Linked DNA regions of Homo sapiens: all the other regions are linked to region 2. The links come from fine-mapping of genetic effects on gene expression. A gene starts in region 2. Each other region holds a variant in brackets. All regions are shown on one strand. Distances are between the middles of the regions. Region 1 has its middle 3.0 kb from the start of AURKB. Region 2 holds the start of CTC1 (CST telomere replication complex component 1). Region 3 holds the start of ATP1B2 (ATPase Na+/K+ transporting subunit beta 2). Region 4 overlaps AURKB (aurora kinase B). Region 5 holds the start of LINC00324 (long intergenic non-protein coding RNA 324).

What was found.
Region 1: its variant is fine-mapped to the expression of CTC1 in whole blood (TOPMed, PIP 0.98). The same link has a PIP of 0.9 or more in tibial nerve.
Region 3: its variant is fine-mapped to the expression of CTC1 in spinal cord (GTEx, PIP above 0.99).
Region 4: its variant is fine-mapped to the expression of CTC1 in naive CD4 T cells (Schmiedel 2018, PIP 0.92).
Region 5: its variant is fine-mapped to the expression of CTC1 in monocytes after R848 (Quach 2016, PIP 0.95).

The regions. Positions count from the first base shown.
Region 1 is chr17:8,211,024-8,216,123 of GRCh38, forward strand. No RefSeq gene overlaps it. Among named protein-coding and RNA genes, the nearest start is that of AURKB, 3.0 kb to the left of the region's middle. The variant A/G (reference allele first, on the strand shown) is at 2,774.
Region 2 is chr17:8,245,187-8,250,281 of GRCh38, forward strand. CTC1 (CST telomere replication complex component 1) reads right to left here and starts at 2,870. Exons shown (of 23, transcript NM_025099.6): 1 at 2,818-2,870. The coding sequence starts at 2,850. PFAS (phosphoribosylformylglycinamidine synthase) reads left to right here and starts at 4,103. Exons shown (of 28, transcript NM_012393.3): 1 at 4,103-4,153. RefSeq lists enhancers at 2,667-2,806, 3,287-3,406, 3,531-4,287 and a silencer at 2,897-2,946.
Region 3 is chr17:7,648,865-7,653,960 of GRCh38, forward strand. ATP1B2 (ATPase Na+/K+ transporting subunit beta 2) reads left to right here and starts at 2,062. Exons shown (of 7, transcript NM_001678.5): 1 at 2,062-2,766; 2 at 4,510-4,638; 3 at 4,977-5,081. The coding sequence starts at 2,655. RefSeq lists enhancers at 714-1,214, 1,215-1,715, 1,990-2,632 and a silencer at 1,972-2,121. The variant G/C (reference allele first, on the strand shown) is at 2,029.
Region 4 is chr17:8,202,084-8,207,164 of GRCh38, forward strand. It overlaps AURKB (aurora kinase B), which reads right to left. Exons shown (of 9, transcript NM_004217.4): 6 at 4,667-4,805; 7 at 4,408-4,556; 8 at 3,133-3,307; 9 at 2,651-2,961. The coding sequence ends at 2,788. Among named protein-coding and RNA genes, the nearest start is that of AURKB, 6.0 kb to the right of the region's middle. RefSeq lists an enhancer at 1,616-2,116. The variant GT/G (reference allele first, on the strand shown) is at 2,049.
Region 5 is chr17:8,219,028-8,224,127 of GRCh38, forward strand. LINC00324 (long intergenic non-protein coding RNA 324) reads right to left here and starts at 5,016. Exons shown (of 3, transcript NR_026951.1): 1 at 4,785-5,016; 2 at 3,266-4,247; 3 at 1,603-2,482. TRW-CCA1-1 (tRNA-Trp (anticodon CCA) 1-1) reads right to left here and starts at 1,913; the gene lies at 1,842-1,913. It overlaps TRG-TCC3-1 (tRNA-Gly (anticodon TCC) 3-1), which reads left to right and starts at 2,521; the gene lies at 2,521-2,592. TRD-GTC2-11 (tRNA-Asp (anticodon GTC) 2-11) reads right to left here and starts at 3,282; the gene lies at 3,211-3,282. It also overlaps TRP-CGG1-3. RefSeq lists enhancers at 1,671-2,557, 2,190-2,339, 2,850-2,989, 3,370-3,569, 3,892-4,633 and 2 more and silencers at 3,250-3,319, 3,780-3,829. The variant A/AATC (reference allele first, on the strand shown) is at 2,218.

The DNA of each region.
Region 1 (5,100 bases), 34 kb before region 2:
CCTGTCCTCAGGTGATCCACCCGCCTCGGCTTCCCAAAATGCTGGGATTACAGGCGTGAGCCACCGTGCCCGGCCTTCTTCTTTTTATAAAAAAAATTAAATCTTTAATGTAACTGGAGTTTATCCTTATGCATGTATGAGCTGGGGTCTAACTTCTCTGCCCGATGGAGCGCCAGTTATGTCAACACCATTTGTTAAACAAACTGCCCCAACAGAATTTAAATGCTGCCCTTGATATATAATGTTAGCATATTTACTTGTGTCTATTTCTAGACTTTGTATTCCGTTGTTTGCTCATTTGCCTGTGTGTTTATTCTTGTGTCATTACTATGTCGTTCTTAAAAGTTCTGACATTCCTGGGAGGAGTTTTTCCACCAATAGACCTTTCGTTGCAAGATCTCTGTTAGCTGCCGTGTTGTTTGGGCCCACTTTCATTTTTCCTCCTTCCTGCCACACTTCCTTCTTTTCTGCTCTTCCTAACCCTCAGATTTCATTACTGGGTTAAATAAATACATTTTTGGGCCTTCTATGAAATAACCAGTGGATATTTATTAAGTATGTACTGTCCAGCACTCTTCTCCTTTCTTCTAACACTCTATTTTTCCTTTAGGGGACCACCTGTCTCTCCAGTCTATGCAGTCGGTTTCTGTAGTAGTTTCTGTTGCTGACAACCCCAAATCCCTAGGTTGATGAAGACCTATTTAAATCTCACTTTTTTTTTTTTTTTTGAGATGAAGATTCGCTGTGTTGCCCAGGCTGGAGTGCAATGGCACAATCTCAGCTCACCACAACCTCCTCCTCCAGGGTGCAACTGATTCTCCTGTCTCAGCCTCCCGAGTACCTAGGATTATAGGTGCATGTGACCACGCCCGGCTAATTTTTGTATTTTTAGTAGAGACGGGGTTTCATCACATTGCTCAGGCTGGCCTCAGGTGATCCGCCCGCCTTGGTCTCCCAAAGTGCTTGGATTACAGGCGTGAGCCACTGCGCCCAGCTTTATTCCCACTTCTGAAAGCACTTAGAGTTTTGAGGATTTGAGAAGGAAACTGACTTCATTGCAGGTCCAGAAATGAGCCCCAATTAACTTATACTAATCAATACCTTTTATTCCAGATTATGGTTATTGGATCAGGCATAAGCCTGTGATTTAAGTGGGCCAGCTAGTGGGAATCAGTTTCTTGCTCAGAATGCTGGGCAGCTCAAGGAAACACTTAACGTTTACTGGTTTATCATAAAGTGTATTACAAATGATATAGATGAAAAGATGTATAGGGCAAGGTATGGAGGAAGAGATTTCTGGAAGTGAGCAGGGAAGCATGCAGCCCTCATTGCTGCTTCTAGTGCTACTGAAGGAAGCAGCTTGACATTGAAGCCTAACATTGCAGAAGGCAGAAGAGAGGCCTGGAAAGAACTTCAGGACTTGATGACATTGTTGAGCCTCTACATGCCTACGTTAGCACTTTTCTTACATGAACAATAGAGAAGATTATTATTCAGCTAATATCCTTTCTGAATGCATTCTAAATGCTATTTGCTGTTTAAGCATATTGTGTAGAAAAAACAAACCATGGCTAGGCTTGGCGGCTCACGCCTGTAATCCCAGCACTTTGGGAGGCTAAGGCGGCTGTATCACTTGAGCCCAGGAGTTTAAGATCAGCCTGGGCAACCTGTGAAACCCCGTCTCTACAAATAAAAAAAAAAAAAATTAGCCAGTATGGTAGTGTGTGCCTCTAGTCCAAGCTACTTGATAGGCTGAGGCAGGAGGATCAGCAGAGGCCGGAGGTCAAGGCTGTGGTGAGCCATGATTGCACCACTGCACTCCAGCCCCGACATTAGAGTGACACCCTGTCTCAATAAAAACAAAAAATGGGCAGGGCGCAGTGGCTCATGTCTGTAATCCTAGCACTTCAGGAGCCCAAGGAGGGTGGATTGCCTGAGCTCAGGAGTTCAAGACCACCCTGGGCAACATGGTGAAACCCCGTTACTACTAAAATACAAAAAATTAGCCAGTTCTGGCCAGGCGCGGTGGCTCATGCTTGTAATCCCAGCACTTTGGCAGGCTGAAGTGGGTGGATCACGAGGTCAGGAGTTCGAGACCAGCCTGGCCAACACAGTGAAACCCGTCTCTACTAAAAATACAAAAATTAGCTGGATGTGGTGGCAGGCGCCTGTAATCCCAACTACTTGGGAGGCTGAGGAAAGAGAATCGCTTGAACCTGGGAGGCGGAGGTTGCAGGGAGCTGAGATCGCATCACTGCACTCTAGCCTGGGTGACAGAGCTAGACTCCGTCTCGAAAAAAAAAAAAAAATTAGCCAGTTGCGGTGGCGGGTGCCTATAGTCCCAGCTACTCAGGAGGCTGAGTGAGGCACAAGAATTGCTTGAACCTGGGAGTGTTGCAGTGAGCCGAGATCACGCCACTGCACTCCAGCCTGAGCAACACAGCAAGAGTCTGTCTAAAAAAAACAAAAACAAAAAAAGACCCAATTTTTCCTCTGCCCTCACACCACAGCAATCAACACAGGAGACTTCTGCGACCACATGTGTGGAGATTTTACTGCACCACCAAGCAATCAGTTCTGCAATCAAGCAATCTGTTCTGCAGCAGACATCAGCTGGGTGTCTTCCGATTAGATTCTGACACTATCTACCCAGAGAGAGCATCAGATCCCATAGGTTGAGGGCTCAGTCCCACAAGACTGCCCCTCACTTTGGATGCCAACTGCAAGCCTCAGGTTGTTTTTACCTGTACTCATGACTAACTGGGTGTAAGCT[A/G]GGGTTCCTACGATTCCCTCTTTATGTTCAATGAATTTGCTAGAGTGGCTGACAGAACTCAGGAAAAAATGTTTACTGGTTTATTATAAAGGATTTTTTTTTTTTTTGAGATGGAGTCTCTCTGCCACCCAGGCTGGAGTGCAATGGTGCAATCTCGGCTCACTGCAACCTCTGCCTCCCGGATTCAAGTGATTCTCCTGCCTCAGCAGGAGAACTCGCCACCACGCCCAGCTGATTTTTGTATTTTTAGTAGAGACGGGGTTTCATTACGTTGGCCAGGCTGGTCTCGAACTCCTGACCTCGTGATCCACCCGTCTTGGCCTCCCAAAGTGCTGGGATTGCAGGCGTGAGCCACCGTGCCCGGCCTTATAAAGGATATGACCAAGGATACAGATGAAGAGATGCACGGGGCAAGGAGGTGGGAAGGGCATGGAACTTCCATGCCCTTCTGAGGTGTGCCGCCCTTCAGGATGCTCCACGGGTTCAGCTCTCAGGAAGCTCTCTCTACCCCATCCTCTTGGGTCTTTTATGGAGACTTCATTAAATAGGTGTGATTGAAGCATGACGACTGTGTAGAAATGTGATTGGACGAAGAGGGTATGATCTAGTACTAATAGGCTGAGTGGGGAAGCCCAGCAAGGCCTGTCTAGATTCTTCCCGGCTTCTCTGTGCAGTATTCCTTCCACCTTCTGAAATGGGGGTCTTATGACCTATAATTGAACAAGATTGTTCAGAGAATTTATTTATGGCCAGCTTCAGGACAGACAGGAAAGAGGTAAGATAAGATATATATATATATATATATATATATACACACACACACACAGTTTGTTTGTTTGTTTTTTGAGACAGAGACTCGCTCTATCGCCCAGGCTGGAGTGCAGTGGTGTGATCTCGGCTCACTGCAACCTCCGCCTCCCGGGTTCACGCCATTCTCCTGCCTCAGCCTCCCGAGTAGCTGCGACTACAGGCACCCACCACCACTCCCAGCTAATTTTTTTATTTTTAGTAGACATGGGGTTTCACCACATTGGCCAGGCTTGTCTCGAACTCCTGTCCTTGTGATCCATCCACCTCGGCCTCCCAAAGTGCTGGGATTACAGGCATGAGCCACTGCACCTGGCCTTTTTTTTTTTTTTTTTTTAAGAGAAGGTCTCTTTTGTCCGAGGCAAGCACTCTTGCTGCACAATCATAGCTCATTGCAGCCTCAGAACAAGTTTGGACTTGGTTACACCAATTTGCTTCTTTAATCTATCAATTTACCTTTAACTGCCGGCACATCAACGTAGTGAAATATACCTCATGTATTTGCATTGCCATTGTCTCTTCTGTGGAGAGGAGGGAGCAGGCAGAGATGGTTGGTCATCAAAGGGGACTTAAGTTTTGCCTTTAATGTTCTAATTTTTTAGAAGGTGTATAGAGTCATGGAACTGTTTGCAGGATTAAATATTAATGACAAATAATCCCTAAAAAGAAGGTGTGGACCAGGCACGGTGGCTCACGCCTGTAATCGCAGCACTTTGGGAGGCCGAGGCGGGTGGATCATGAGGTCAGGAGTTCGAGACCAGCCTGGCCAACATAGTGAAACCCCATCTCTACTAAAAATACAAAAATTAGTCAGGTGTGGTGGTGGGTGCCTATAATCCCAGCTACTCCAGAGGCTGAGGGAGGAAAATCTCTTGAACCTGGAAGGTGGAGGTTGCAGTGAGCTGAGATCATGCCACTGCATTCCAGCCTGGGTGACAGAGCAAGACTCATCTCAAAAAAAAAAAAAAAAGAAAAAAAAAAGAATTGAAAGGAAGTATCATAAATATTCAGAAGCAGCGTTATTCACAACAGCCAAAAGTTGGAAGCAGCCCAAATGTCCATCAACTGGTGAATGAATAAACAAAATGTCATATATCCATAAAATAGAAACTTACTTAGTCCTAAGAGGAATGAAGTACTGATATTTTATTTCATGGAAACCATGAAAACAGTATAAACAAAAGAGGCTAAGCTGAGCACAGCAGCTCATGGCTGTAGTCCCAGCACTTTGGAAGGCTAAGGTGGGCAGATCCCTTGAGCCCAGAAGTTCCAGACCAGCCTGGGCAACATGGCGAAATCCCGTCTCTACAAAAAATACAAACATTAGCCAGGTGTGGTGGTGGGCACCTGTAGTCCCAGCTACTCAGGAGGCTGAGGCAGGAGAGCCGTTGAACCCAAGAGGCACAGGTTGCAGTGAGCCAAGATCGTGCCATTGCACTCCAGCCTGGGCAACAGAGCAAGACTCCGTCAAAAAAAAAAAAAAAAGATAGAAAGTTCACATATTATATGATTGCATTTAC
Region 2 (5,095 bases):
AGTACTATGCTTAGTACAGGGGTGACGAAATAATCTCTATACCAAACCCCCATGACATGAGGTTACCTACATAATAAACCTGCGCACGTCCCCCTGAATCTAAAATAAAAGTTAAAAGGAAAAAAAAGTCTTCAAGTTCTAGATGTCTTCAGCATCCTTGTGGACAGCCCTACCACTGACTTTCAGCCCACTTCAGCCACACACTCATTCATGGTCAGAGTTGTGGAAGGCAGACCAAATCACCATTCAGAGTTGCCCCACCAGTATAAGCAAAGTTCCGACTCTCACGCTTTTTGTCTTCCTCTCCCAGTATTCTTTTGTAGTTCCTGTTTCTCGGATGGCCTATCCTTTGCTTGGTGCACTGAATACGACTGTCTCTCAAAGTGATCCCATGGCTTCAAGGTAAAATTACCTAAGTTTTGTTAAAAAGGCAAATTCGTGTTTTCATCTACTGAGTAAAAATGGAGCAGACTGGATGTGGTGGCTCTCGCCTGTAATCCCAGCACTCTGGGGGGCCAAGGTGGATCGCTCGAGCCCAGTAGTTCACTACTAGTCTGGGCAACAAGGCAAAGACCCGTCTCTACAAAAAAGAAAAATTAGCTGGGCATGGTGGCTCGTGCCTGTAGTCCCAGCTACTCGGGAGGCTGAGGTGGGAGGATCACCTGAGCCTGGGAAGGTTGAGACCCGCCTGGGCAACATGGTGAAACTCTAAAACAATTCAAAATTAGCTGGATTAGCCTGGCGTGGTAGCACATGCCAGTAGTCCCAGCTACTTGGGAGGCTGAGGTGGGAGGATCACCTTAGCCTGGGAAGGTTGAGACCCGCCTGGGCAACATGGTGAAACTCTAAAACAATTCAAAATTAGCTGGGTTAGCCTGGCGTGGTAGCACACGCCAGTAGTCCCAGCTACTTGGGAGGCTGAGGTGGGAGGATCGCTTGAGCCCAGGGAGGTTGAGGCTGCAGTGAGCCATGATGGTGCCACTGCACTCTAGCCTGGGTGACAGAGTAAGACCTTGTTTCAAAAAAAAAAAAAAAAAAAAAAAGGAGGGAGGAAGAGGAAGATCCAGATTAATACAGGCTGAAGTTTAAGAACACAATATGCTTTCCCACAATTATCTCAACCACTGCATGGGTTTAACAGCCATGGCCAGATGATGATTGTTCCTGTATGTCTACTTTAGCTGAGATCTCATTCCTGAGCTTTAGTCCTATCCATCTGCCAGACTCTCCATGGCCAATCCACAGGCAGCACACATGCCCAACACTGAACTTTCCACAAAACCCTGTCCTTTTCTAGAACTCTTCTAGTGTTATGTTCACTAACTTAGCAAATAGTACCCTTAACCAAACAGTTGTTCTATCCTGAAACCTAGATGTCCTCCTTAGCTCCTTCCTTTCCCTACATAGGTCCCAGTCCTGGCTGGGTGCAGTGGCTCACGCCTGTAATCCCAGCAGTTTCGGAGGCCAAGGCGGGCAGATCACGACGTCAGGAGATCGAGACCATCCTGGCTAACATGGTGAAACACCGTCTGTACTTAAAAAAAAGAAAAAAAATACAAAAATGAGCTGGGCATGGCGGCGCGTGCCTGTATGCCTGTAATTCCAGCTACTCGGGAGGCTGAGGCAGAAGAATCGCTTGAACCTGGGAGGCAGAGGTTGCAGTGAGCCGAGATCGCGTCACTGCACTCCAGCCTGGTGACAAAGCTAGACTCCGTCTCAAAACACACACACACACACACGCACACAAACCAATCCTTTAGATTGTATTTTCTTAACATCTTATTTATTTATTTATTTATTTATTTATTTATTTATTTATTTATTTGAGATGGAGTCTGGCTCTGTCGTCCAGGCTAGAGTGCAGTGGCGCGATCTCGGCTCACTGCAACCTCCACTTCCGTGGTTCCCTGCTCAGCTTCCTGAGCAGCTGGGATTACCGGCGTGTGCCACCACACCCAATTACCCTCATGTTAAAGTCGCTGCTTAGCAAGAGGTACAAAACTGTCAGCTCTGACCCCTCCACCACCACCCAACTGAACTTTTGAGTTTTTCAGACACCTGCTCTATCCTCCTGCCTTTGAATATGTGTTTGCTTCCGTCCTGAAACCCCTTCCGGCGCTTTTTTTTTTTTTTTTTTTTTTTTGACAGAGTCTCGCTCTGTTGCCCAGGCTGGAGTGCTGTGGCACAATCTCAGCTCACTGCAGCCTCCGTCTACCCGGTTCAAGCGATTCTCCTGCCTCAACCTTCTGAGTAGCTGGAATTACAGGTGCGCGCCACCACGCCCGGCTAATTTTTGTATTTTTAGTAGAGATGAGGTTTCACCATGTTGGTCAGGCTGGTCTCGAACTCCTGACCTCAAGTAATCCGCCCGCCTCCGCCTCCCACAGTGCTGGATTACAAGCGTGAGCCACCACACCCAGCCCCTTTCGGCGCTTTTTGCCTTCTACACGCACTTCGGGTCTCAGACGCTTTTACTTATTATGGTTGCCCTTTTCCCCTACAGCTCCGTCAAGGGTCTTCTCCAGGAACCCACAGCCCCATAGTTCCCCCATTAACCTGCTCCTGGTTTCCCACCAGGATTAAACCCTAGAGAGTGAACGGAGACCAGTTTAAGGCTCACAGCGGGCGCCGCGTGAATGAGGGAATAAACATTCGCAGAACCAGTAAGAGGTAGGAGCGGACCGACTCACAACCCCCTCACCCATGGGCCGGACGCGGCCAGCGAGCCCAGAGAGACAAGGCAGAGGAAATAGGAAGAGAAAGAGTATCTGTGACAAACAAGAAAAAAGGAACAAGAGACGTAATAGCAGCACTCACGGAGGAAGGGACCTGGGCCCGGCCAGCCGCCATGATGCGCCGGAGCTCCGCCCCCGGGAGGGGCAGGTGCTCGCTTGGGGGTGGGGATGGGGGTGGGGGGGCGCTCGGTGACGTCACCGGTGAGCGGGTTTCCTCGCCACCTCCAGCTCCTTCTCGCTGCTCACCCCCTCGCTTCCTAGAGACTCCGCGAGGCGCCTCGGTGCACCATCCCAACTCCCGACACCCCTGTCTCTTTTCTCTGATTTTTTTTTTTTTAAGACGAAGCCTGGTTCTGTCGCCCAGGCTGGAGTGCAGTGGCGCGATCTCGGCTCACTGCAACCCCCGCCTCCCAGGTTCAAGGGATTTTCCGGCCTCAGCCTCCTGAGTAGCTAGGATTACAGGCACCTGCCACCACCACGCCCGGCTAATTTTTTTTTTTTTTTTTTTTTTTGTATTTTTAGTAGAGACGGGGTTTCACCATGTGGCCAGGCTGGTCTCAAACTCCTGACCTCAGGTGATCCACCCGCCTCAGCCTCCCAAAGTGCTGGGATTACAGGCGTGAAACACAGCCCCTGGCCCTCTCTGATTTTTTTGAGACGAGGTCTCGCTCTATCGCCCAGGCTGGAGTGCAGCGGCGCCATCTCGGTTCACTGCAGCCTCGACCTCCCGGGCTCAAGCGATCCTCCCACCTCAGCCCACCAAGTAGCTGGGATCGCAGGCTTGCACCGCCACACCCGGCTAATTTTTGTATTTTTCTGTAGCGACATGGTTTCGCCATGTTGCCCAGACTGGTCTCGAACTCCTGGGCTCAAGCGATCTGCCCGCCTCGGGCTCCCAAAGTGCTCGGATTACAGGCGGGAGCCACCGCGCCCAGCCTCCGTCTCCCTCCTAAGTGACATCCTGTCCGGCATCCCGCAGGCCTTCAGATGGATGGGGTAGCAGAGCTCAGGAACTCAAACACAGCCCGCCTGGTGGATGACTTCTAAGCATCTTTCAGTCTCCCTGATCTTGCCAAGCAGAGAAGGGCTTCCTCGTAATGCCACCAAAGCACAACTTTCACATGCTTGCTTTATGGCCTTAACTAACTGATGTCATTACTTAACTGTCCCCGCGGGGACGGGGAACTGAATGTATTTTCACAAACGTCAGTTCAAGACAGATTTGTGGGAGAAACCACCTGGGGATAAACCTCTCCCCACCAAGAACCTAGAATTCGGCCGGGTGGCTGGGGAAAAGTGGGCGGGGCGTAGTCGCCCCGGCGCTGGCAGGTCCAGTCTCTGCCCGCGGCGCACGCGGATGACGTAACAAACGCGCGCGACGATTCGAGGTGCTCTGTGGCCGCGAGTGCATCTTCCACGTGAGTATAGTTACCGCGTGCGGACCTGGATCCTCCTCCAGGTGCAGCGTTTCGTCATCTAGCCCAAGCTTGGTCTGGCGGCTTCAGTATCCCCACCGGGCCGAGCTGTGTCTACTTGGTGCCCGCGTATTTGCTTTAGTGGAGGCGTCCATTCGTCCTATCTTGCGTGCGTTCCGCAGACCCCAGGCATGGCCGACCCCCATGTAAATTTAGCCCCATTGTCCCATTCATGGATTCAGCTAACAGAAAGACTGCCGGCCGCCTACTTTATATCAGGCACCATGCTGGTCATGGAATACAGCCCTCATGCACGCAAACCCTGTCTCTGAGCTCTTGAAGCTTATATTTTACTGGGAATGATAGACGGAAATCAAGTGGCTTAATAAACAAAATGCCTTCAGGAAGACTGTCCTGAAAGTTGGGGAGGGGCTGAAGAGTGGTGAGAATCAAGAGTTCATTAAGTCATTCCACAAGTTTTAGAATTTTTTTGCGTTTCAAGCCCTGGTATTGTTCTAAGCCTTGGTAATTCAATGGAAACGAAGCAGCAACATCCCATGCCCACGTAGAGATTTTTTTTCTAGTGGGGAATATAGAGCGAAAAATAAAAACATCCAATAGTGATAAGCGCTTTACAGGAAATTAAAATAGGGCCGGCCATCTGATAGTAACTACTTGAGTGGCTAGTGAAGCCTTTTCCACGAAGGCGAATCACCAGAAATCTAAATAACAAGAGCTAGCCATGCATATGTCAGGGTGAAAAAAATGCCTTCCAGGACTGAGCTTGGCAAGTTAGAGAAATAAAAAAGAAGCTAATGTGTGGTTGGTGCATTGTGGGTGAAAAAGAGAATGGTGTGAGATAGGGTTGGAAAGGTAGGCCAGAGAGTGGCCAGACTTGGTAAACCAGGATGCTGAGTTGGAATTTATACCATGTGTAATGGGAAG
Region 3 (5,096 bases), 600 kb before region 2:
CATGCTGTGTCCCCAACCTCCTTTCCCACTAGTCTCCGACTAGTTCTCTCCTGGAGCCAAGCCAGCCACTCCTGGGGTAGACTGTGCTTACTCCTGACTTCACACCTCTGTGCCTTTCATTCCTTTGTCCTGGAAGACTACCTACCCTTCAGAGGCCAGCCCCAACTCCCATTCATTCATTCATTCATTCAATGCATACCATTTTTTTGAGATGGAGTTTTGCTCTTGTCCAGGCTGGAGTGCAGTGACACAATCTCGGCTCACTGCAACCTCCACCTTCCAGGTTCAAGCAATTCTCTTGCCTCAGCCTCCTGAGTAGCTGGGATTACAGGCTCCCACCACCGCACCCGGCTAATTTTTTTAGTTTTAGTAGAGACGCAGTTTCACCATGTTGGCCAGGCTGGTCTTGAACTCCTGACCTCTGGTCTCGAACTCCCTTGCTCAGGTGATCCATTGGCCTCGGCCTCCTATAGAGCTGGGATTACAGGCATGAGCCACTGGGCCTGGCCGAGATAATGATTTTTTTTTTCTCTCTTTTTTTGAGACGAAGTCTCACTCTATTGCCCAAGCTGGAGTGCAATGGCGTGATCTCAGCTCACTGCAAGCTCCGCCTCCCGGGTTCAAGCAATTCTCCTGCTTCAGCCTCCTGAGTAGCTGGGACTACAGGCACCCACCACCATGCCCAGCTAATTTTTTTTTTTTTTTTTATTGAGACGGAAGCTCTGTTGCCCAGGCTGGAGTGCAGTGGAGCGATCTCGGCTCACTGCAAGCTCCGCCTCCCGGGTTCATGCCATTCTCCTGCCTCAGCCTCCCAAGTAGCTGGGACTACAAGCTCCCGCCACGACGCCCAGCTAATTTTTTTTTTTTGTATTTTTAGTAGGGACGGGGTTTCACTGTGTTATCCAGGATGGTCTCGATCTCCTGACCTCGTGATCCACCCACCTCGGCCTCCCAAAGTGCTGGGATTACTGGCGTGAGCCACCGCGCCTGGCCTAATTTTGCATTTTTAAGTAGAGACGGGGTTTCACCATGTGGGCAAGGCTAGTCTCGAACTCCTGACTTCGTGATCTGCCCGCCTCGGCCTCCCAAAATGCTGGGATTACAGGCATAAGCCACCGTGCCCGGCTTGAGATAATGATTCTTAACATGTGGTATGTAGAGCAAGTGTACTCCCGCCCTAGACTGTGAGCCCCGTGAGAGATGTGGCTTCAGTGTAACCTCTCTGGCCTCCCCAGGGCTACAGCACACAGTCTATAGAGGTGCTCAATAAATGTTTGTTGACCCAAGTAGACACATAAGGAGGTGAGTTCCGACGTGGGGGTGGGGGTGCCAGGAGGCAGAGAACCGAAGTAGACCTGGCTGCAGGGCTGGGATCTCAGGGCAGTGCTGGGGACTGGGAATGTGGTGTTGAGAGGGCTTCAGGGAGACGTGATGGGAAGATGGGGAAGCCTCTGCACGTGGACAGAGCCAGGTGGTGTGGACAGGGGCTGTGAGATTGGAGAAGGAGGCGTCTGGGGGACTGGTAGCGGCTCCCAACAGGGGAACGTCCCTCTGGGGGTGGCCTTTATCCATCTCTGCGGGGCCTGTCCTAGCTTCCCTCCTGGCTCGGCCAGCCTCCCGGCTGGTCTCTTCGCTCTCTTTCTTGATCTCTAGCTCTTTATTCCTCTGACATTCTGCCCCATCTGCTCCCGGACTCTTCCGCCGCATCTGTATCTTAGTCTCTTTCTAACTCCCTGCCTGGGGCCCCCACCTTTGAGCATATATCGGCTTCTCTCTCTGCCGTTGTGTTTCTCTGGGGTTATCTTTCCCTCTACTCCGCCCGGACACGCCCTCTATCTCTTCCTCCCACCCTGTCCCAGTCTAGTACCTGGGGTGGGGGTAATGGAGAGACAGCTAGGTCCCTAAGAGAAGTCAGGGGGGCGGGCCCAACCTCTCCATATTTACATATGTATGAGGTCGCCTGGGCCAGTGGCGAGGAGGCGGAGCTTCTGGGGGTGGGAAGGGGGCGGGCACCCCCAGAGCCGCAGA[G/C]TATAAAGACCGCGCTCGGCGACCGCGGGCCTCGCACTGCTGAGGAGCGGAGCCTCCGCCTGGGGGGCCCCCCATCCCTGGCTGTCCCCCAGCTGCGCGTCCCCGCCCCACCCCCGCGGCTGAGCCACCACCGGTGCAGTGGTCTCCGCTTGGCGGAGCGAGCCTTGAGCTTCGTTCCACAGCTTCTTTGCATCTTGGATTTCGGGGCGGCCCCCTCCCCCACCTCTCTCTGCCTTTTTGTACCCCGCTTTTTTTCTGCGTTCTGCTCGGTTTTTGTAGCCGTCTGTTTTTGCACCCCATTTCGTTTTGTTTCTAGACGGTTTGGTGGGGGGTGAAGCTGCATTCATACCCCTTCCTCTTGTTATTCTCCCCTGCTCTGACAGCACCCCTTTTCATCGCAGTTGGGGGGCCTAGGATCGGTGCATCTTCCGCCGCGCTGCCAGCACCCCGCAGCGCGTGGTCGTGCACCCCGGAATCTGCAGCAGCTGCATATCTGAGGGGGGTCTCCTTTGCCCGCGCCGCCTTCGCTCCCCGTGCTTTTGGGTGTGTGGAGGGCTTCAGCGCGCGGCGCCCCCGCTTCTCCGCAACCCCCCGCCCCGCGCCCGGACTCGCCCCGCGCCACCAAGATGGTCATCCAGAAAGAGAAGAAGAGCTGCGGGCAGGTGGTTGAGGAGTGGAAGGAGTTCGTGTGGAACCCGAGGACGCACCAGTTTATGGGCCGCACCGGGACCAGCTGGGGTACGCAGGGCCGGCACGCAAGGGGCGGGGGAAAGCCGCGGGGCGACGCCTCGGGGGCGCAGGGTCCCGCCGACGCGGCCCCAGCTCCCCTCCCGGGTCCCCGGCGTCCAGCCTCCCTGCCGGGCTCTGGGCTGGGAGGGGGCCGAATCGCCAGTCTAATCTCCCCGGCTGGCCGTGCGGAGGCGGAGAAAGTAGGTCACAGCCGCCTTCCCGCCCCCCGCGGAGCCCCCTCGGGCGGGGGGTCGCCAGCTCCGCCTGCGTGTCCGCGCCGGCGCTCACACTCCCTCTCGGGGCCTGTCCGCTCCACACGGGCGTCCCCCACCTCCAAAGAGCGCCCCTTCCCTCCCTCCGGCTCTCACTAGCTCCGCAGCCCCGTCTATTTTTAGCTCGTGCCCACCCCCTGGACCCTGGGAACGTTCATGAGGGGGCGGGTCTTGGGGGGTGTGTTAGGGGGGTTCTTCACGGCGGAAGTTGTCTGTATCCCACCGCCTGGCCTTGGGAGCCTTCTGGGACTGCTTTGTGGGTTGGGGGGCTGCTGATAGTATGAGTTTTACCGAGGCTGCAGGTTTTGCTCCCATGTCGGTGACGGAGGGAGGAGTGGTCGCTGTGGTGATTTGTGTGCATCAGCCAGCCAGGTGTCTGTGACAGTCGGATGACTTGGAAGCCTCCCCAGGCTGACCATGGCAGGACTCAGGGAGCTGTAGTGGTCGGGGGTTGGGGGGGTGGAGGGGGTCTGGTGACCGGCACAGGTGCAGGTGAGGGGTGGAATTCTTCCAAGAGGGATGGTCAAGCTGGGACGTTGAGACACAGGGGACAGAGGACACTGTGTGACACGATTTACAATCTTTCCACACTGGGCACCGTCCCCATCAGTCCACCCATTCGGGGCCTACACGAAGTGGGTCCCATGCAATCCATTCCCTCAGGGAACTCAAACTCCAGCCCCTGGGATGAGAAGAATCCAGCAATGCTTGGGAGAGCCAGAGGACTTCATGGAAGAAGTGTCCTCTGAGATGGAAGGATTGGGAGTCCAGGGTGGTGGGAACAGCCGGCCCTTGGGTCCTTACTTCAGGCGGGGGAGCCATGGAGAGATCCCACCAAGGGAAGGCTGTGGGAGATTCTGCCTTTCCTCCCTGCCTCTGCCCAGGGTGCTGGGTGTGAACTGAGGGTGGGGTGACTGTTGAAGGTTCTAACAAGCCGTCTCTGAGAGATTTGTAGCTAGGCTAGTGTTAGGTCTTTCATTTCAGGAACTGTGTTCAAAGTTTGGCTTCTGAAGGGCACCAGGAGAGAGATGTTGCTATTCAAATCTGAGGGTCCAGTCTCTGCGGGGTGGTATGAGGGTTTGCTTGTGAATGGTGGCCAGTACCCGCTTTAAAAGGCACCATGCTAGCACAGCTTTAAGCATGAGTACGAATGCAGAGGTAACAGATGTGTGCCTTGTCAGGACTATGCATGGTTGAGAAGTTGGAAATGTAATTGGAGGCAAAATAACAGACCTCCACAAGGTCGGGCTTCACTGTGCCCTAGGACCAGGAGGGGGCTGGGAGTCATGGCTAGAAGCCAGACACAACTGCCTGTTTCCAGTTTGTCTCATTTTGCCTCCAGAGGAAGGCTCTAAGACATCCCTGTGGCTCTGTGATCAGTCCCAGTGCAGAACTTCAGAGTGGGTAGAGGGGTGTGTGGGGATAGTTGAGGTTATGGTGGGAACCTTGGGCCCTGCTGACCCTGTTTCCTCCTCCCTAGCCTTTATCCTCCTCTTCTACCTCGTTTTTTATGGGTTCCTCACCGCCATGTTCACCCTCACCATGTGGGTGATGCTGCAGACTGTCTCCGACCATACCCCCAAGTACCAGGACCGACTGGCCACACCGGGTGAGTGTGGAGGCTCCCCCTGCCAGCTACTCTAACTGCTCTTGTGCCCCCAAACCTCCAGAAGGAACTCATAGTTCCTTCCAGGAGTTTGATTTTGATGACCCAATCCCCACGTGCTTGGAAGTTCTTGAAATCTGTCCACCTTCCCATTTACTGCAGTTGGGAGCTGTGTGATTTGGGCATGTGGCAGATAGCCACAGGAGATCACCCTCCCATGAAGACGATCTCAGATATTCACCGCTGTCCCCACTCTGGTGTTCCCTGTGTCCATTTTCTTCCCTCTGTGTGCAGTCCCTCATCTTATAGATACCCCCAACTTCTGCCTTTGTTGGCTGTAGGCTTGATGATTCGCCCCAAGACTGAGAACCTTGATGTCATTGTCAATGTCAGTGACACTGAAAGCTGGGACCAGCATGTTCAGAAGCTCAACAAGTTCTTGGAGCGTGAGTGTGGGCCTG
Region 4 (5,081 bases), 43 kb before region 2:
TGCCTGTAATCCCAGCTACTCGGGAGGCTGAGGCAGGAGAATCGCTTGATCCTGGGAGGTGGAGGTTGCAGTGAGCTGAGATTGTGCCACTGCACTCCAGCATGAGTGACAAAGCAAAACTCCGTCTCAAAAAATAAAAAATAAATAAGCACCCCGCCCATTTCTTTCTCCCTAGAGATAGCCAGTTCCAAGTCTTTTCACTGTTTTATTTTGATTTGCTTTGGGTATTTACCATACTTTTTTTTTTCTTGAGGCGGAGTATCACTTTGTCGCCAGGCTGGAGTGCAGTGGCTTGACCTCGGCTCACTGCAACCTCTGTCTCCCGGGTTCAAGAGATTCTCCTGCCTCAGCCTCCCTAGTAGCTGGGACTACAGGCACACACCACCATGCCCAGCTAATTTTTGTATTTTTAGTAGAAGCAGGGTTTGACCATGTTGGCCAGGATGGTCTTGATCTCTTGACCTCGTGATCCGCCCGCCTTGGCCTCCTAAAGTGCTGGGATTACAGGCATGGCCTACTGAGCCTGGCCTACCATACATTTTTTTTAAGTTGTTAAACAACAGTCACGTATATTTTATTTTTATTTTTTTAATTTTTACGTTCTCAGGGTGTACAAGTACAGATTTCTTTTTTTTTTTTTCAAAAGGAGTCTTGCTCTTGTTGCCCAGGCTGGAGTGCAATGGCGTGATCTCAGCTCATTGCAACCTCTGCCTTCCGGATTTAAGCAATTCTCCTGCCTCAGACTCCCAAGTAGCTGCGATTACAGGCGTGCACCACCACACCCGGCTAATTTTGTATTTTTTTAGTAGAGACAGAGTTTCACCATGTTGGTCAGGCTGGTCTCGAACTCCTGACCTCAGGTGATCCACCTGCCTTGGCTTCCCAAAGTGTTGGGATTACAGGCCTGAGCCACCACGCCCAGCCCCTACCATACGTTTTTAAATCACATGCTTCCGTTGCTGCTTCTTAAGTTTTCAGTTTTAGGCATGACCTGTTTTTTTCCTGCTATAAAATTCAAGGAATTCACTCTTCCACCCCACTGCCACCATAATTTTGGTTAGATTTATTCATTTGACAGTAGTTACTGAGTGTCCTCTACATTCCGGGTACTGTTCTAGAGGCTTGGTGTAAAGCAATGAATTAAGAAAAAAAAAAAAAAATCAATCAATCCTGCCAGGCGCAGTGGCTCACGCCTGTAATCCCAGCACTTTGGGAGGCCGAGGTGGGCAGATTGCTTGAGGTCGGGAGTTCAAGACCAGCCTGGCCAACACAGTGAAACCCCGACCCGGTCTCCACTAAAAATACAAAAATTAGCCAGGAGTGGTGGCACATGTCTGTAATACCAACTACACGGGAGGCTGAAGCAGGAGAATCACTTGAGCCCGGGAGGCGGAGGCTGCAGTGAGCTGAGATCACACCACTGCACTCTGGCCTGGGCGACAGAGCAAGACTCTGTTTCAAAAAAAAAAAAAAAAACTTGTCCAGGCGTGGTACGCCTGTAATCCCAGCACTTTGGGAGGCCGAGGAGGGTGGATCACCTGAGGTGAGGAGTCCGAGAGCAGCCTGGCCAACATGGTGAAACCCCATCTCTACTAAAACTACAAAAAAATTAGCCAGGCTTGGTGGCGTGCGCCTGTAATCCCAGCTACTTGGCTGGCTGAGGCAGGAGAATAGCTTGAACCTGAAAGGAGGTTGGAGGTTGCGGTGAGCCAAGATCGGGCCACTGCACTCCAGCCTGCATGACAGGGTGAGACTCCGTCCTGCTGTGTAGCCAGGCTGGAGTGCATTGGTGCGATCTGGTCTTGCTGCAGCCTCCACCTCCCGGGTTCAACCGATTCTCCTGCCTCAGCTTCCTGAGTAGCTGGGACTACAGGTGTGCACCACCACGCTCAGCTAATTTTTGTATTTTTAGTAGAGATGGGATTTCACCATGTTGGCCAGGATGGTCTCGATCTCCTGACTTTGTGATCTGCCTGCCTCGGCCTCTGAAAGTGCAGGGATTACAGGCATGAGTCACTGCGCCCAGACTTAACTGTTTTTTTGTTTTT[GT/G]TTTTTTTTTTAAAGACTCTGAGTAAACTATGAGTAGAATAGGCCCTGTTTAACCTGATAAAGGGTATCTATCAAAAACCTACAGCAAGCATCATGCATAACAGTGTAACCTCATGTCAGGAACAAGACAGAATCACTGCTGCTTCTATTGGCTCCTGTACTAGATCCTGACCAGAGCAGTGAAATAATCAAAGACAGCTTCTAGGGTACAGAACTGTTTAGTTGCTCCTACGTTGGCAAAGGGGCAGAGAATGAAACAGAAAAGGAAAAACTAGAAGTTGGACAACCAAGAGAGAGGTGAAAGAAGGTGGCCAGAGATGGCTGGTGTTCCAATGTAGCAATGGGGAGCCAGGGCCCCCAGTGCCCCTGGGCTGTGGGAGTCTGAGCAACGGAAAGAATAGACAGTGAGGGTAGAGGTGGAAGTGGGGGTAGGGGTTGGGGTGGCTGGGAGCTGACCAGGTGGGTGTCAGAGCTGAGAGGGTAGGGTGTTACCAGGGATAGCAAAGTAATGCTCATCCCGGCTCCTCAGGGTGAGCCAGCTCTCCTTCTAGGGAACAGCTTCCTCCACAGCAAAGCCTCCACCTAGAAACATCTACACTCATGAGTACAAAAAGCTTCAGCCTTTATTAAACAAAGGAGGAGGTAGAAAACAGATAAGGGAACAGTTAGGGATCCCTTCTTTCCCCTATACATACACAGACATACAAACACACGCACCCGAGTGAATGACAGGGACCATCAGGCGACAGATTGAAGGGCAGAGGGAGGCAGCACCCTCCGAGAGTTGGCCCGGACCCAAGGGTGGGCTGAGACCTGGGCCAGGGGCAGCCGTTCCGAGGGGTTATGCCTGAGCAGTTTGGAGATGAGGTCCTGGGCTCCCATGGGCACGGAAGCGGGGAACTTTAGGTCCACCTGCAGGTGTGAAGAGATGGAAGGGCTGCATTAGTTTCACCCTGGCTACATCTTCCTTGACTACCCATTCTGTTTGGAGTTACTTAGGGCCATGCAAATACACTCTGCCCACCCCCAGCCCCCCAGCTCCTGGCTTCAGCAGCTGGCACGAAGCCCAGGCCGCCCTCCCACCTTGACGATGCGGCGATAGGTCTCGTTGTGTGATGCACTCTCAAAGGGTGGGTTCCCCACCAGCAGCTCATAGCAAAGCACTCCAATGCACCACAGATCCACCTTCTCATTGTGCATGCGCCCCTCAATCATCTCTGGGGGCAGGTAGTCCAGGGTGCCACACATTGTCTTCCTCCTGGGAGGGATAAGGGGCGTGGGCAGGGGTCCTAGTGACATAGGAACTCTCCTTTCCCTGCTGCCTGACGGCTGGGAGCCAAAAGACCACGGGATGTACCAGGGGAGAGGTCCAGCCAGGCAAGGCCACTGGAGTGGGGGTGGGGTTGGGGTGATGATATATCCCAAAGCCCCAGAGGTGAGCCTGCACACAGCCCAGCAACTCCACACTGAAGGATATATCTTAATAAGATACCCTGATATGAGGGCAGTGTTCATTTGGAGTTCACTGGGGACATCTCTAATGCCCATCAGGCATGTTCTGGTTAAATAAATCAGCTACTATGTGATACTATGAAACCATTAAAAAGTGATGTGGGAGGAAAAAAGGCCACTGCTCCGGGCTTTTTTTGAGAGAGTCCAGGCTGGAGTGCAGTGGGGCGATCTTGGCTCACTGCAACCTCTGCCTCCCGGGTTCAAGTGATTCTCATGTCTCAGCCTCCCGAACAGCTGGGATTACAAGTGTGCACCACCATGTCTGCTTAATAAATTTTGTGTTTTTAGTAAAGATGGGGTTTCATCATGTTGGCCAGGCTGGTCCGCTGGTCTTGAACTCCTGGCCTCAAGTGATCCACCCGCCTTGGCCTCCCAAAGTGCTGGGACTGGTAGGCGTGAGCCACCGCGCCTGGCCAAAGTTTTACCATTGGCCCCTACAGGGATCAAACCTGCGACCTTGGGGTTATTAGCACCACACTCTAACCATTTTTTTTTTTTTTTTTTGAGACAGAGTCTCGATCTGTCACACAGGCTGGAGTGCAATGGCGTAATCTCGGCTCACTGCAACCTCCGCCTCCCAGGTTCAAACAATTCTCCTGCCTCAGCCTCCCCAGTAGCTGGGATTACTGGCGTCCGCCACCATGGCCGGCTAATTTTTGTATATTTAGTAGAGACAAGGTTTCATCATGTTGGCAAATCTAGTCTCGAACTCCTGACCTCAGGTGATCCGCCCTCCTCGGCCTCCCAAAGTGCTGGGATTACAGGTGTGAGCCACGGTGCACGGCCCCTGGAGAGGTTTTAATGGCCCAGCCTCACACCCAGGTCTGGCCTCCCAGGCCACCATACCTCAGGGAGGGCGCATGCACAGACCAGCCGAAGTCAGCAATCTTCAGCTCTCCCTTGAGCCCTAAGAGCAGATTTTCTGGCTTTATGTCTCTGTGAATCACCTTCTTCCCATGGCAGTACATTAGAGCATCTGCCAACTCCTCCATGATCTGGGAGGGGCAACGACAGGCAATCAGACAAGGATGGACCTCCAGCTACAAGCAGCACACCCTCAGCCTCGAGCCCCCTACTGGCGCCCCAGGTGCCCACCCGCCCGGACCGTGGCTGTTCGCTGCTCGTCAAATGTGCAGCTCTTCTGCAGCTCCTTGTAGAGCTCCCCGCGGGGGGCATACTCTAGAATCAAGTAGATCCTCCTCCGGTCATAAAAATAGTTGTAGAGACGCAGGATGTTGGGATGGCTGGGGGAAGAGACAGAGGAGGCCTCAGGCCAAAGGCATAAAAGAGCTGGAAAAGATGATAGGAGCAAACTGGGGTCAGACGTGGCCCAGGCCGGGGACACCAGGGCTGGGAGTGGTAAGGGGAAACTGGAGGCAGATTTCTGGATTCAAGGCTTGCCAGGACTAAGAGCTAAATGGGGCTCACTAGCCATAGCTACAGAGAAAGCAATCTGGATGAAGTGGGGCTGAATGAGGAGCTGGGGGTGAGGGAGCAGAGGGGCTTCGGCTCAGGGGGCA
Region 5 (5,100 bases), 26 kb before region 2:
TTTCCTTTTTTTTTTTTTTTTTGAGACGGAGCGTCAATCTGTCGCCCAGGTTGGAGTGTAATGGCATGATCTCAGCTCACTGCAACCTCCGCCTCCCAAGCTCAAGTGATTCTCCTGCCTTAGCCTCCTAAGTAGCTAGGATTACAGGCATGTGCCACCATGCCTGGTTAATTTTTTTTGTATTTTGAGTAGAGACGGGGTTTCACCATGTTGGCCAGGCTGGTCTCAAACTCCTGACCTCAGGTGATCTGCCCACCTCGGCATCCCAAAGTGCTGGGATTACGGGCGTGAGCCACCACACCTGGCTGTATTTCTTCTTTATTTTGTTACGAATATATCTGTGTGTGTGTTTCAGCTAATAAATGTACACAAAATGATAGAATTAGGAAATGATCATTTTGCATCTCCTTATGAAATAATTAATGCAGGCAAGGTTTTCTGGTTGCCCTGGCAGTGAGAATGGTGGTGGGACTGCTTGGTAGCCAGCCTCACAGCCAGCTCCGCCTTAGGTCGCCAGAGTTTCTATGCTGTTACCTTGCTCAGGTCATCAGCAGTTCTTCAAGCACCATTTCTGCAAGGACTGGTCAACTGTCTGCCTTTGTCTTGTACATAGTGATACAGTGACACAGAGACAGCTATGGCAGAAGGTGGGCAGGGGCAAGAAAGGGGAAGGAAAGCGGAGCACAGATTTTAACCTGGGCAATGTCTGCTGTGTGGATGGTGGTGAGATGGCCCAAATTCTTCCCCATCAACCAAAGCCAGTCACACTTAGAAAGGTATTGTTAGTGGAGGAGAGAGAGGTGAAGGGAATAAATTTCCCATTGGAAAAGACAAGGCATATAGGGTGGGTGGCCTGGATTTCTTTCTTTCTTTTTCTTTTTCTTTCTTTCTTTTTTTTTTTTTTTTTTTGAGAGAGAGTGTCCCTCTGTCGCCAGGCTGGAGTGTAGTGGTGCCAATCTCCGCTCACTGCAACCTCTGCCTCCGGGGTTCAAGCGATTCTCCTGCCTCAGCCTCCCAAGTAGCTGGGACTACAGGCATGCGCCACCACGCCCAGCTGATTTTTGTAGTTTTTAGTAGAGACGGGGTTTCACCAAGTTGGCCAGGATGGTCTTGATCTCTTGACTTCGTGATCTGCCCGCCTGGGCCTCCCTAAGTGCTGGGATTACAGGCGTGAGCCATCCCATCCCACCGGTTTTGTTTTTCAATATACTGGAAGCAGCCAAAATGCACGTGGTCCTGGGCTTCTAGTGACTGCTGGGAAGTCTGGAGAAAGGTAATATTTGTATTTAATATCCTTGTGTTCAGTGTTAAGTAAACATACCTAGAACAGCAGAGATTATTAAAAACATTTAAAAAGGCCGGGCACAGTGGCTCACGCCACTAAAATACAAAATTATCCGGGCGTGGTGGTGCATGCCTGTAATCCCAGCTACTCGGGACGCTGAGGCAGGAGAATCCCTTTGAACCCGTGGGCGGAGGTTGCGGTGAGCCGCGATAGTGCCATTGCATTCCAGCCTGGGCAACAAGAGAGAAACTCCGTCTCAAGGGAAAAAAAAATACAAACAAAAAATAATAATTTAAAAAATTATTTAACAATTTCCATACAACAGGGAATTTTTTTATTTTTAAATTTATTTTTACTTTTATAGACCTTAGGGATACATGCGCAGTTTTGCCACAGGGATATATCACATAATGTTGAAAGTCTGCACCCAACTTCTGAATAACGTTCATATTTGTCTCATTCCCCTCCTATCCTTCTACTGAGGAGGCTTTTTTTTTTTCCTATCCTGAAAAATGTCACCGTAGGTCTATTTGATTAGGGAAAACAATGTTTTGTTTGACCCCGACGTGATTTGAACACGCAACCTTCTGATCTGGAGTCAGACGCGCTACCGTTGCGCCACGAGGCCTGTCCAACAGCGTGACTTGATGGGTCTGTTGAGCAGCAATAACGGGCGGACTTTTGTCATGAAGCCCCACCTTTAAGATTTGTCAGCGCATTTCTCTGAGGCACCAGCTGACGAGATGTGGGCGCATGTACGTAGGAATTAAATTCATCCTCTGGATAAATAATAGAGAGGCAAGTTGCGTTTAGGCGCATTTGGCTTAAGGCCCAATTCCTTAACTGGAATCACATTGAGCTCGTTGAGCTCACTCTACAGAGAAGCCATTTTTATGTGTCTAGGCCTTTTTTTTTGTTTTCTGGAGATGATA[A/AATC]ATCATGGTGTCGCTGCAGTTCTCGCCCCCTGGACAAATCTTAGACGTAATCCCAGCTCTGCCGGTGACTCAGCTTCCCTGGATCTTGGTTTCCTCGTCTGTAGACTGGGCATAACCCTACAGGTTCATGTGGGGTGGGTGGCGCGCGCTAGCGGTGAAGGTCACTCACAATTGCGCGCTGGGCAGACGACGGCAGCCATTACTTTTACCTCGATCGCTGTTTTCCTGGATCCGCACGGGTCCAACCCGACTCATCCCAACCAACCTGAGGTATGAAAACCAGGAAAGAGAGCTAGCACCGGAGCGTTGGTGGTATAGTGGTAAGCATAGCTGCCTTCCAAGCAGTTGACCCGGGTTCGATTCCCGGCCAACGCAAGTCGTTTTGGGTGTTTTTTCCCCCCCCCGCCTTTTCCTTTTCGTGTTTTCTGGGCCCCAGCATCGTTGAGGGTTTTCGTGAGGTTTTCCTGAGGAAACTTCCGCTCCGAAAGGACCCACTTTCCGCTACACCCGCGACCACGGCTGGACCACCGCGCTCCTGACGGATGCGCCCTGCAAGCCCCTCCAGGCGAGAGCAGCGCGTCGGAATCTCGGCCCGGGGTTGCCTACTGTTCCCGGATCGCAGTGCGAATCCACAAAAAGCAGGGAGGCGAAAGGAAACAAAAGCCCGGGCTCTGCACCCTGGACGGCTGGGGGCCAAAGCTACTTGCCCAGGTTCAAGCAGAGACTGGAAATGCGCACTTCCGTCAAGGAGGGAGCAAGCTAGGCCAAGTCTGAGCGCTAATGAGCATACTGAGCAGAGCAGATAATGGCCACTTTAGGTACACGTTTGAACTCTAAGTTGCTTGAAGTAAAATGGAAACTTAGAATGCGAGCTGGAGAGGAAGGCCAAACTCTCCTCCCCTCCTCCTTTCCCTCTTTTTTATAGCTCCATCCCAGGGACCAGGACGGATTTAATGAAAGCAAAAAGATAGAAGTTTCAAAACTGCTAGTACTCTCCCCGTCGGGGAATCGAACCCCGGTCTCCCGCGTGACAGGCGGGGATACTCACCACTATACTAACGAGGAGGGACCTGTAGAGACCTTTCTCCGAATCCTTGATCTGAGACTTTACACTCTGCGTGCTGACAGCAGGGTTCCTAGGGGTTCTGTTCTTCCAACCACTGATAAACGCTGACCAGAAACCGTAGGTGTATTTCAGGCACCAATCGTCAGATGGAGTGACCGAAAGAGACAGAGTGCCTTCAGGACTGCAGAGAACCAAGTTTTGACAGTTCCTGGGCTCTCCCGAACACTGTCATCCACAACTATAGATTGACGCGTGTCAATCAAAGCGAAACCAGGCTGTGGTGGCCGAGTTGAGACACCAGGAAGGAAGTCAGGAAGCAGAAAGGGAGGGACCTGCCCAAGTCTGGGCGTGCCTCGTCTCTTCCTGACATGCCAGGCGGGTCTGGGGATTGAGATGCTTTCTGCTACCGCGGTGCCACAAAAGAGCTTACTGTACATTGATGACTTACAGTCAAGCCTCCTGCAGCGCTGGTCAGGTAACCTATTCCTTGAAGACACTCTTGTCTCAGTAAAAGGTAAAGGAGGGCTCGTCCGGGATTTGAACCCGGGACCTCTCGCACCCGAAGCGAGAATCATACCCCTAGACCAACGAGCCGACGTGCGGACGTTGCCGCGAACCGCCTTAGAGGTCGTGCCAGGCTTGCTGTAGTGCTGGGTCCACTATGCATGGCGGAACGGTCCGGGCGCACGCTCACGGACCAGCCTCCCCCAGGCCGAGTATTTTGGAGCACTGGGCTGGGAATCTCTTGGCTCCGGGCCGCGAGCTCCGGCTCCTCCCAGGAAATAGCGTCAAGGAAGTGGGAGGGAGTGGCCTCGGCCTCGCCCCCGCGCCGCCTTGCACGACTGCCTTGAACACCCGGGTTGTTGCTTCCTTTGGTTACCGACTTGGTGCCATTCCGTAACCTGGGATCTTGACACTTCCTGCCTCCGCCTGCGGTCCTTGGACCTAGCTCTTCGTTGCAGAGCTTTGAAGAGAAGCGGTGGAATTGCTTGCTTTCGGGACGGGCAGGAGAAATCACTAGGGGAACACCAGTGCCCCGTGTCTGTCTATCCTCCTGGGCTAACGGGCAGGGCAAACCCTGGGCCAGACCCATCGATAGTCCACGGGTTCCCCAGACCGCATGGCAGTACCCAAGCGAGGGAAAGAGGGAACGATTTCTGGGGCCCAGAAGACCCACGGAAGAGGGCGTTATTGAGCTGGGTGACTGGAGGGGGACAGGCTTTCCACCCTGCAGTGGGGCGGGGCGCAAGGCCAGGCGACTAGTCTCATGGCTTCCGGACTGTAAGATCAGGTTACCCCTACCCTACAGTCTAACCTCTGCTCCCCAGTCCCCTCCTAGAATGGCCTAGAAGGGAGACCCTCCTGCCTGCCTCCTAAGACCCCCCGAAGGCTCTGAGGCACGTGGCCGCATGAATGTGGTCGAAGGCCTGTAGACCCGGTTTGGGGACTTAGCAGTGTCCCCGGGACTGCCCAGTGAGCCTCTGCGCTCTTAAACACTCACCATGCTGCTCTTACTCCGGAGCTGCCCAGAGTCCCAGCAAGATCTGGTGGGGTCGGTAGCAGACCACGTGTCCTGCCTTTCCTCAGCTCAGTGCCTGTTCTGGGGAGTCCTCCCAGCGGGGTTCTGGCCTGCATCGGCCCTGGACCAGCCTGGTGTCATCTGTGGAACCATTTTGTTCTACACCCCAGTTGTGTGATTTGTGGGGCCAGGCCGTTCCTAATGCCCAACCCATAGATACGATGACGGGGCTTTCAGTGAAGGATTCAGCTCCTATTTGTCTTTCCCAGGTTCCCCTGGACAGACAGTGGGGAAGGGC